Linked DNA regions of Homo sapiens: all the other regions are reported to be linked to region 1. The links are microRNA targets in miRTarBase. Many come from high-throughput screens and were not tested one by one. Region 1 holds a microRNA gene; each other region holds the end of a gene's coding sequence. Distances are from middle to middle.

The links. Region 1 holds the annotated microRNA hsa-miR-1277-5p (AAAUAUAUAUAUAUAUGUACGUAU, at 1,475-1,498, opposite strand). A microRNA usually pairs through its seed, bases 2 to 8, with sites in the 3' UTR of a target mRNA and lowers its output. Matches are read on the target gene's strand: a 7mer-m8 pairs with bases 2 to 8, a 7mer-A1 pairs with bases 2 to 7 and ends in A, and an 8mer does both.
Region 2: the mRNA of POU2F2 is a reported target of hsa-miR-1277-5p. The part of its 3' UTR that is shown has no 7-base or 8-base seed match.
Region 3: miRTarBase lists USP51 as a target of hsa-miR-1277-5p. Seed matches in the 3' UTR shown: 7mer-m8 at 1,404-1,410.

The regions. Positions count from the first base shown.
Region 1 is chrX:118,384,838-118,387,898 of GRCh38, reverse strand. It overlaps MIR1277 (microRNA 1277), which reads right to left and starts at 1,505; the gene lies at 1,428-1,505. WDR44 (WD repeat domain 44) reads right to left here. Exons shown (of 20, transcript NM_019045.5): 3 at 485-559.
Region 2 is chr19:42,088,542-42,091,602 of GRCh38, reverse strand. POU2F2 (POU class 2 homeobox 2) reads left to right here. Exons shown (of 15, transcript NM_001394376.1): 15 at 12-3,061. The coding sequence ends at 346. Among named protein-coding and RNA genes, the nearest start is that of ZNF574, 14 kb to the right of the region's middle.
Region 3 is chrX:55,484,111-55,487,171 of GRCh38, forward strand. USP51 (ubiquitin specific peptidase 51) reads right to left here. Exons shown (of 3, transcript NM_201286.4): 3 at 506-3,061. The coding sequence ends at 2,694. Among named protein-coding and RNA genes, the nearest start is that of USP51, 4.2 kb to the right of the region's middle.

The DNA.
Region 1 (3,061 bases):
GATACTGTAAACTGCCCATTTTCAAAATACTGATCTTGTGCTCAGTCTCTTCTAGTAAACCAACCTTTGAAGCTTCATAGCATCAATTTTTTAAAAGGTATCAGGTACTATCAGAGTAAGGACTTCTTATAACTTCTGATTCCTAAAGACATCAGAATGTTGCTGCACTGAGCTTTTCAATACCCATAACTCCTGGTAGTAACCTCAAGAAGAGTTAGGGCTTATTCTGATAAAAATACAAGAACAAAAAATAAAAGCATTTTACAAAATATTGTCTCAAGGATAAATTACCAATTAGAATATGAAAAGGACTTCTAAAAAGACTGAAATGTCTTCAACCACAAATGTGACAGATTCATGAAACATTTGCTGAACATCAGCCATGTACAGAGCGCTATACTAAAAGAATATAAAAGCTGTTTGAAATATACCATATAAATATGATGTCTGCTATAAACTAATATTGACATTGTATCTTTCCAACCTTTTTAGACACATCTTGTTTCAATTCTTGTACAGGGGACTCATTTCCAACTTTGTATGCAGTGTTCTCTGTTTCCTGTTTGAAAAAGAAAAGAAATAGAGACCAAATGATGACATCTTTTCTTTAAAAATATGCTTTAAAGGGGTACAAATGAGAAAATGTAGCATTAATAAATCAAAGGCCCTTAAAGGGCTTTGATTTCTTCTTCTTCTTTTTTTTTTTTTTTTTTTTTTGAGACAGAGTTTTACTCTGTCACCCAGGCTGGAGTGCAGTGGCACAATCCTGGCTCACTGCAACCTCTGCTTCCCGGGTTCAAGTGATTCTCCTGCCTCAGCCTCCCGAGTAGCTGGGATTATAGGCGCGTGCCACCACACCTGGCTAATTTTTGTAATTTTAGTACAGACAGAGTTTCACCTTGTTGGCCAGGCTGGTCTTGAACTCCTGACCTCAAGTGATCTACCCACCTCAGCCTCCCAAAGTGCTGGGATTATAGGTGTGAGCCACTGTGCCCAGCCTAAAGGGCTTAGATTTCTGAATACTGATAGATGCTCAGAAATTTTATGCCAAATGGGACAATGTAATTTGCATAAGAAAGTTACCCATCAGCAATATTCTATTATTCTGCAATAGGATATTTACCTTTAAATGTGAAAACTTGCTCAACTTTTTAACATTAAAAAACTGTAATGGACGATAAGAACTTCTACGTACTTTTATAGCTAAAAAGGATTAAGGATTTAAGCAAGGGGCTGAATAAAAATTGTTATTTTCCCCAAAGCATTGCTCCATAAATATGCACAAATACAAAAGTTTATAACACAGAAAACCACATTCAGGGAATAGTTTTCTTAAAATTCTACATGCTTTAGATAAAAGAAATCAAGACTTAACCAGAAGTTAAATGAAGCCCCTAAAAAAACTATGAAAAAAGATGAAAAAAATTAAACCCACCAAAAATACATATATATCTACGTATACATTTATATACACATACGTACATATATATATATATTTGGGAGGTTAGAAATGGATACTGCATTTCTGCTGGAAAAAATTAGGGTAAAATAAGACAATCATATATTTGCAAATCTCAATACAATACTCTTCTCAATCTTAAGTTGTCTATTTATAGAAGCACAGCAATTTGAATGCTACTCTTGATACTGAGGAAAAAAAACCATAATTCTTTGTGCACATCACAGAGTTTGTTAGAGGAAGGTCATTATAACCATTTTAGACAGATAAAGGACTCAAGGCACATTAATTATTTAGGTGGCACTTATACAAGTATCAGGATATGATCACAATAGGCTCAATAATGAAATTACTCCAGAGATTATTAAAATGTTAAAGATTTAACGTGCCAGTGAAATTTCTGTAGGACTTGCAATATCTTCGAGCACTGAATTCCTCCCCCAGAATTTGGAGAATACTACCAATCTTACACAGATTCTTCTAGAAAAAAAAAAATGTTTCATGGACTCTTAAGTATTAGATAAAATCCAAACAGTACCAAGGCCCATGAAGGCCTAAACATGACATAGCCTCTGCCTACATTTTTGATATCTTCTACACTCCTCATCTCCCTCTCATATCACTCCCCCACAATTACATTCTGGCCAATAGGATGATTCCTTGCCATTAGGGTCATAGCTCAAGTGCTATTTTATCAGAAAATACTTCCCTGACCATCTCAAAATAGCCTTAGCTGACTCCTTAACTTTCTATCACATTATCCTATTTTTCTTTTTTTTTTTAACTTTAAGTTCAGGGGTACATGTGCAGATTTGTTACACAGGTAAACTTGTGTCATGGGGTTTTGTTGCACAGATTATTTCATCACCCAGGTATTAAGCCTAGTACACATTAGTCATTTTTCCTGATCCTCTCCCTCCTCCCACCCTTCACCCTCTGATAGGCCTCAACATGTGTTGTTCCCCTCTATGGGTTCATGTGTCCACATCATTTAGCTCCCACCTATAAGTGAGAACATGCAGTATTTGGTTTTCTGTTCCTGCATTGATTTGCTAAGGATAATGGCCTCCAGCTCCATCCATGGCCCTGCAAAGGACATGATCTCGTTCTTTTTTATGGCTGCATAGTATTCCATGGTGTATATGTACTACATTTTCTTTATCCAGTCTATCATTGATGGGCATTTAGGTTGATTTCATGTCTTTGCTATTGTGAATAGTGCTGCAATGAACATGTGTGTGCATGTGTCTTTATAATAGAATGATTTATATTCCTTTGGGTATATACCCAGTAATGGGATTGAGGAGAGGATGTCAAACTATCCCTGTTTGCAGACAACATGATCTTATATCTAGATAACCCATAGTCTCAGCCCAAAAGATTCTTAAGCTGATAAACAACTTCAACAAAGTCTCAGGATACAAAATAAATGTGCAAAAATCACTAGCATTATTATACACTAATAACAGCCAAGCAGAGAGCCAAATCAGGAATAAACTCCCATCATTTGCAATTGCCACGAAAAGAAAATACCTATGAATACAGCTAACTAGGGAGGTGAAAGGAGAACTACAAACCACTGCTCAAAGAAACCAGAGATGA
Region 2 (3,061 bases), not on the chromosome of region 1:
CTCCCCGCCAGCCCTGGCCTCTGGTGGAACCCTGCCCCTTACCAGCCTTGATGGCAGCGGGAATCTGGTGCTGGGGGCAGCCGGTGCAGCCCCGGGGAGCCCTGGCCTGGTGACCTCGCCGCTCTTCTTGAATCATGCTGGGCTGCCCCTGCTCAGCACCCCGCCTGGTGTGGGCCTGGTCTCAGCAGCGGCTGCGGCTGTGGCAGCCTCCATCTCCAGCAAGTCTCCTGGCCTCTCCTCCTCATCCTCTTCATCCTCATCCTCCTCCTCCTCCACTTGCAGCGAGACGGCAGCACAGACCCCTGGAGGTCCAGGGGGGCCCGAGGCAGGGTCCAAACCTGAGTGAGGGCCAGCCATGCCTCCCCTCCCATTCCTCTGGTCCCTGCCTTGGTCCCTTGCCTGGGAAGAGGGCGAGGAGGCCAGTGGTGGGGACGCAGAGGGTCCTCAGAGCAGGAGTGACAAGGGAGGAAAGACCAAAAAAACAACCAACCAAAAAAAAAAAAAAAAAGGAAAGAAACTAACCAACAAAAGAGAAAACCAAAAATAATCACAACAGAAACCAGCTGCCCCAAAGGAACCAGAGGTGAAAAACAAACAAAAAAAAACCAAAAACAAACCAAAAAAAAAAAAAACCCACAAAATCAAACAAACCAAAAAACCAGTCGCGAGCCAGACCTCAGCGTGCTCACCCTCACTGCTACGACGCCAAATAAAAACCCCAGCCAGGGGCGGAGAAGCCTCCAGCAGGTCAGACCTCATGCCACCGAGCCCTGGCTGTGGGACCAACCCCCAACCCTGCCTCCCCCGTGGGGGCTACAGAAGGAAAAAGAGAAGATGCCAGCTTCCTAATCCCAGCCCCCAGCCCTGGGCCAGCGAAGACAGGGCACAGCCTGGGCAGATGGGCTGGGGCTTAGCACCACCCACCAAATGTTCTTTTCCAGAAGGTGAAAGAGAAAGGGCCTGAACAACCTTACACCAAATATTCAGTAGCTTCATCCAAAGGATGTACAGAATTTTTAGCATTGTGCTCAACAGAATGTGTCCCTACCATGTGTCCCCTTCTCCCCTGGCCCCCAGCTCTCCCCACCTGGGCAGGGGGTCTTGCTTTAACCTCCTCCCTCCCCCCAGCAGGGGAGAGTTCAAGGGAAGGCCTGCGGACAACTTTTCATCCCCTGTTCCTCCCTCTTTTCCCCTTTGAAGGGTGGGCTAGGCCATTTTGCCAAGTTCTAGCTCTCACAAGTCCCTCCTCAACCCTGTCACCCTCCTCTGCTCTGGAACTGACTCCCTCCCCAGCCTATGGGAAGGTGGAAATTTCAGGCAAGAGGGGATGAAGACATTCAGTTGAGGGCATTCAGTTGTCTTTTTCCATCCTGTCTGTTTCCCTGAAAAAAAAAAAAATTCATATTCCAGTGCCTATCCGTGGGATCCTTCACGTTCTTTGACATTAACCAGAAACCAAAAAGAGAACTCACCTCGCTTTTCCCACCCTGTGCCCCTCTGGTACTGGCGAATGCCTCTCCCTCCCCCCACATGCACGCACGCACACACCCCAGTGGTGGGGTTCCTCGAGATGGCATCCCCATCAGGGTCCATGTGGTGGGGACAGTGCCACAGCCTGTGGTCCCCATCTGAGAGGGCGCGGTGGTGGCCACCACTCCCACAAGACCTCCACAACTCTTGGCTGGACCCTGTGTTTGACCAGCCCCGGACACGTCTCCACTGACGACGGACAGAGGAGAGACACCACTGGGAGCCACCCTGCCCTCCTGCTATTGTGGAGGCCAACAAAGTTTTGAACCGAAAACCAAAAAAACAGAAACAAACAAACAATAAATTTAAACTAGAAAAAAAATTTATATATATATATAAACATATATATATATATATATATAAAAGGGAAAGAAGATGAGGACTCTTCAAGAATAAGATGGAACCGCGAGGCGGAGCCAAGCCCCTGCACCGGTGGTCCAGGCCCTTGTTCCCCAAGGCGGATGGAAGGACGGATGCTTCTTTCTCTTCACAAATACCTCATGGACGTTGTCTTTGGGAAAGCCGGAGGGGGCGGCTGGGGCAGGGCCTGTCCCTCGGCCAGGGCAGATGGAAGCGGGTGGGCGGGGCTGAGAGAGGGTATCAGGGACAGGGGTGAAGAGCCCCAAACTCCCCTCCCAAATCAACTGAAAAAGCTTTAAAAAAAGACAGGAAAAAAAGGAGTAAGAAAGCAAAAAGAACAGATGAAGGAAAACTTAACAACTTTTGGGTGGTTTGATTCCTCCTTTGATTTCTTTTTCGGTTCTCTTTTGTCTGACCTCTCTCCTCCCCTCCTTCCTCTCTCCTCCCCTCCTTCCTCTCTCCTCTCCTCCTTCCTGTCTCCTCTCTCTCCCTTTGCTCTCCTCTCTTCTCTCTCAATCTTGTTCTTTCTGTGTCTCTCCTCAAACCAAAGTGTTGCAGTGAAGGACACGAGCCATTGAAATCAGGGTGGGGCCTGACAGCCGTAGTGTGGCCCCTGCCCCTTGTTGGGCAGGAGCAGAGAGAGAGGAGAGCCCTGAGACCGCAGGGCTTTGGCCTGGGCAGCTTCCACTTTCTGCCGGACACTCTGAGGAGAGGCAGATGGAGCTCCAGGCCTCAGCGTTCTCTTTTTTCCTTGTCTCCCTTCTCCCACCCGGGAAATGAAACTGTTGGGCTGGGCGACGGAGGCAGCAGAGACTCGGCCATTGCAGGGGCCTCTGGGTGCCTTGTCCGGGCAGTGGTGAAGTAGCCGCCCCTCCCACCCCGGCACGATGGGGCCTGGCACCTCGTCTACCCAACCTCACCGGAATGTAAGCATCTCCGCTGAACGACTCCCTGCCCTTACCCTACCTCTGAGTTTGTCCATGTTTATTTCCTGAAGAGAGAAGGGACTGGCAAGAGGGCTTGGGCCCCAGCCCAAGGGTGGAGAGGGGGCCAAGGGCTCCTGACCAAATAGGAAGGACATTTGAGCAGAGCAAAATGAAAGGAATTACAACCAAAAACCCCCTCCGAGAAGACAGGCAGCATGGAAGGCATGGTGGAGATGACTCAAACA
Region 3 (3,061 bases), 63 Mb from region 1:
GTTACCAGACATCACTCCCTTGTAGTAGAGTGATGATGTGCAGTGTGATGAAGAACACTGTGCAGTGATGAGGTACTACTGTCTCACGGGGAAGGTAAACTAATGTGGTAAACCCTAGAGAGGTGTGGTACACAGTTGTGAGACACTGCTGCTGAGGAACACTGTGATGAGGGGCAGTGTGGCCACACACATGCCAGAGAGCTCAGCCTCACCTTCAGCTGCTGCTCCTCATCCCCACCCAGTCTTCCATGACTGCCAACTTCCAGGCCTGTGCTCTTTTCTCTGCATTGTACCTGGGCCTCCCTCCACACACCTGGCTATTTCTCACTGAGCACCTTTCTTAAGCCAGCCCCTGCAGCTGAGTGCTTTTCATATCCTGCTTTGGGGTAAAATACAATACTGATCACACTGTAGTATAGCACTGGGCATTTAATGGCAGCCTGATGGATGAAGGGGTGAGAAAACATTACTGACAAGGTGAATAGAGCAAATAACTGAACTCATCTTCACATTTAACAAATATTTATTAACACAGAAATGAATAAGGCTTGGCCCCCTGTTCTTAGATGCTCAGTGCAGAGGGGCAGACAATCACAAAGCTACAATAAAATCACAGTAGAATAAGTACTATCACCGAGGTATGGACAAAGTACTTTGGAGGCACAGTGAGAGGAATAAAGAGGGGAAGAGAGGAACAATTTTCTCATTTATACCTGCCTAGAGCATTCAGGGAAGACTCCAGAGAAGTCATCTGTGAGTTGGGTCTTGAAGGAGGAGTAAAAGCCACCAGGTGAATAGTCAAAGAAGGAGCCCTGCAGGCTGGGGCTCAGAGATGTAGGTAAGGCCAGGTAAGTAAGGGGTTCAGGGAACTAGGCATGAGTGACAAAAAAAGGAAATAAAGAGGGAATAAAGAATGAGCAGAAGGACTGCAAGCACAAACCCATTGCTCTACTGTGGAAATTAAAGGTCTTGTTTCTCCTTGGAGGGGGAAGAGGGAAAAAGGAAGGTGGGAAGGCCTCAGATATGGGTCCCTGCCACTTCCTCAATCAGGCCATGGGGCTCAAATACCAAAGCCAGAGCTTCACAGCTGTGATCTAACTTCTCTAAGCCACCAAATTATCAAGAGCCCCTTTTCAGAAGCTAAGAATTTGTATGAATAATGCAGTTCTAAATGGGAAAGTCCCTAATGTTTTCATTTTTCTCAGATGAATTGATTCTGCCTAGGAAGTAATTTGACTTCCTTCAGGATATGAGATGGGGCATGGAATCTCAAGAGGGGAAGGTGGGTTAGTTAGTGTTTAGGCCTTGCAGCCATTTCACAATTGGATGGTAAGATAATGATTAAAATGTCTATTTCCTTTTCCAACGTATATTGATATATCAACATAAAGCTCAAAAAAAAAAATATATATATATATATATACTCACACACCGCTGTCGTTATTCCTGTCTCCTCCATTTATTTCTTTCATACCCGTCTGTATTTTAATATGCTTAAATAAAAAAATAGAACTTCTTAAACTTTTAATTTTAATAATTTTTTCTACTTGAATCTTTCACATTTTTTCACTGGTCAATTTTTATGTAACTGTTTTTCTTTTTAAAAGCTTAAATTTTTAAATCTTTATTTAAATATTTAAAGTTTTCATTTAAATCTCTTGAACTTATCTAAGGTTCTTTTTATTTTACAAGTCTCTATTTTCTTCCTGTATTTTTTCAATTTTTGTCTTTAAACACATTTTGTCTTTTTGTCTTGAATTATTCTAAACTTGCCTCTTTTAAAACTTTTCTCTAAAATCTGAATTGCATTCCATTCTGTATTTTTGAAAATTTATTTCTTAATCATTATAGTAGTAATTTTGTTAACACTTTTTAAATACGTATATTTTATGCTTTAATTTTGAAATATCTATTTATATTATTTTCCTTCATTTGAAACTTTTAAGATGTTCCTTTGTTTCTAACTTTAATTTTTAACAGTATTTTCTTCCTTTTTTTGGTAAACTTTCATTTTTAACCTTGTTCCTTAATTTATTTTACATTTTTAAACTTTAAGAATTTAATTTTCTTTGCTTTTAATTTTTAAAATTCTGAAACTTCTTTAAATTAAAAAATTATTTTTAACTTTTAAAATATTTCTTTTAAAAATAACAACTTAAATTTTTTTCAACATTTAAAAGTTTTTTTCTTTTAAAATCTTAAAAATGATTTTTTCCTTTTTAAATGTTTTTCTTTTAAAGCTCTTTAAACTTTATTTTAAAATATTATTTTTCTTTCAAACTATTTAGCTGGTCAGCCACAGCTGGAACACCAATTGTGAAGTTTTTGCTGATAAAGGAATACTCCCTGACTTCACAAGATATTTCTGTAAAAACAAATGACATAGAGTAGCATCAGAACACTTCTACTCCCGTTGTCCCCACCTAAAGCATTCTTTTCATTTCATTATGCTTTATGTGACCATTTTCAACCTCTTCTCCCTCTCCCCATTTCTTAAGGTTGAATGGTCACTGGTTAGTATTCATTTTTTTCTTCCGACAGACCCATGGGCCATGCTAAAATAGGTTCTTTATATCAAGATACTAGCTGTCACATAGGTGTTACTGTCATTGTCCATTCCAAGTAGGTCTGTGTGTCACTTCAAAATCCTTGCCTAATCATTTACTTTTTTTTCAGTAAGTGGTCTGGTAAGACTAGTCTTTCTCTAGACCCTGTTTGTGATAGAACAGTAAATACCCTTCACTGTAGAGTAAGTCCTCAATGGTAGCCTTGGTGATGATGGCATCATCACAGCTGAACCACTGGTCCTTTTGTTGCCGGATGAAGCTGGTATAGTGGCCACTTTCCAAAGTTCCATGGTGATTAATCACTGCAAACAAGGAATACTTATTCTCATTGGGCACACAATCTGTTGGTGGCTGGCCTTCTTTCATTCTGCTCTCTTTAGTAGAGGCCAAAAACGGAGTCATGTCCAGCTCCAAGGGAAAGGAGATAAAGGTATTAATCTTTCGCCTCTGTTTGCCTACATGCTCAAACCGCTTGAGATGAAAACAAGCCACAA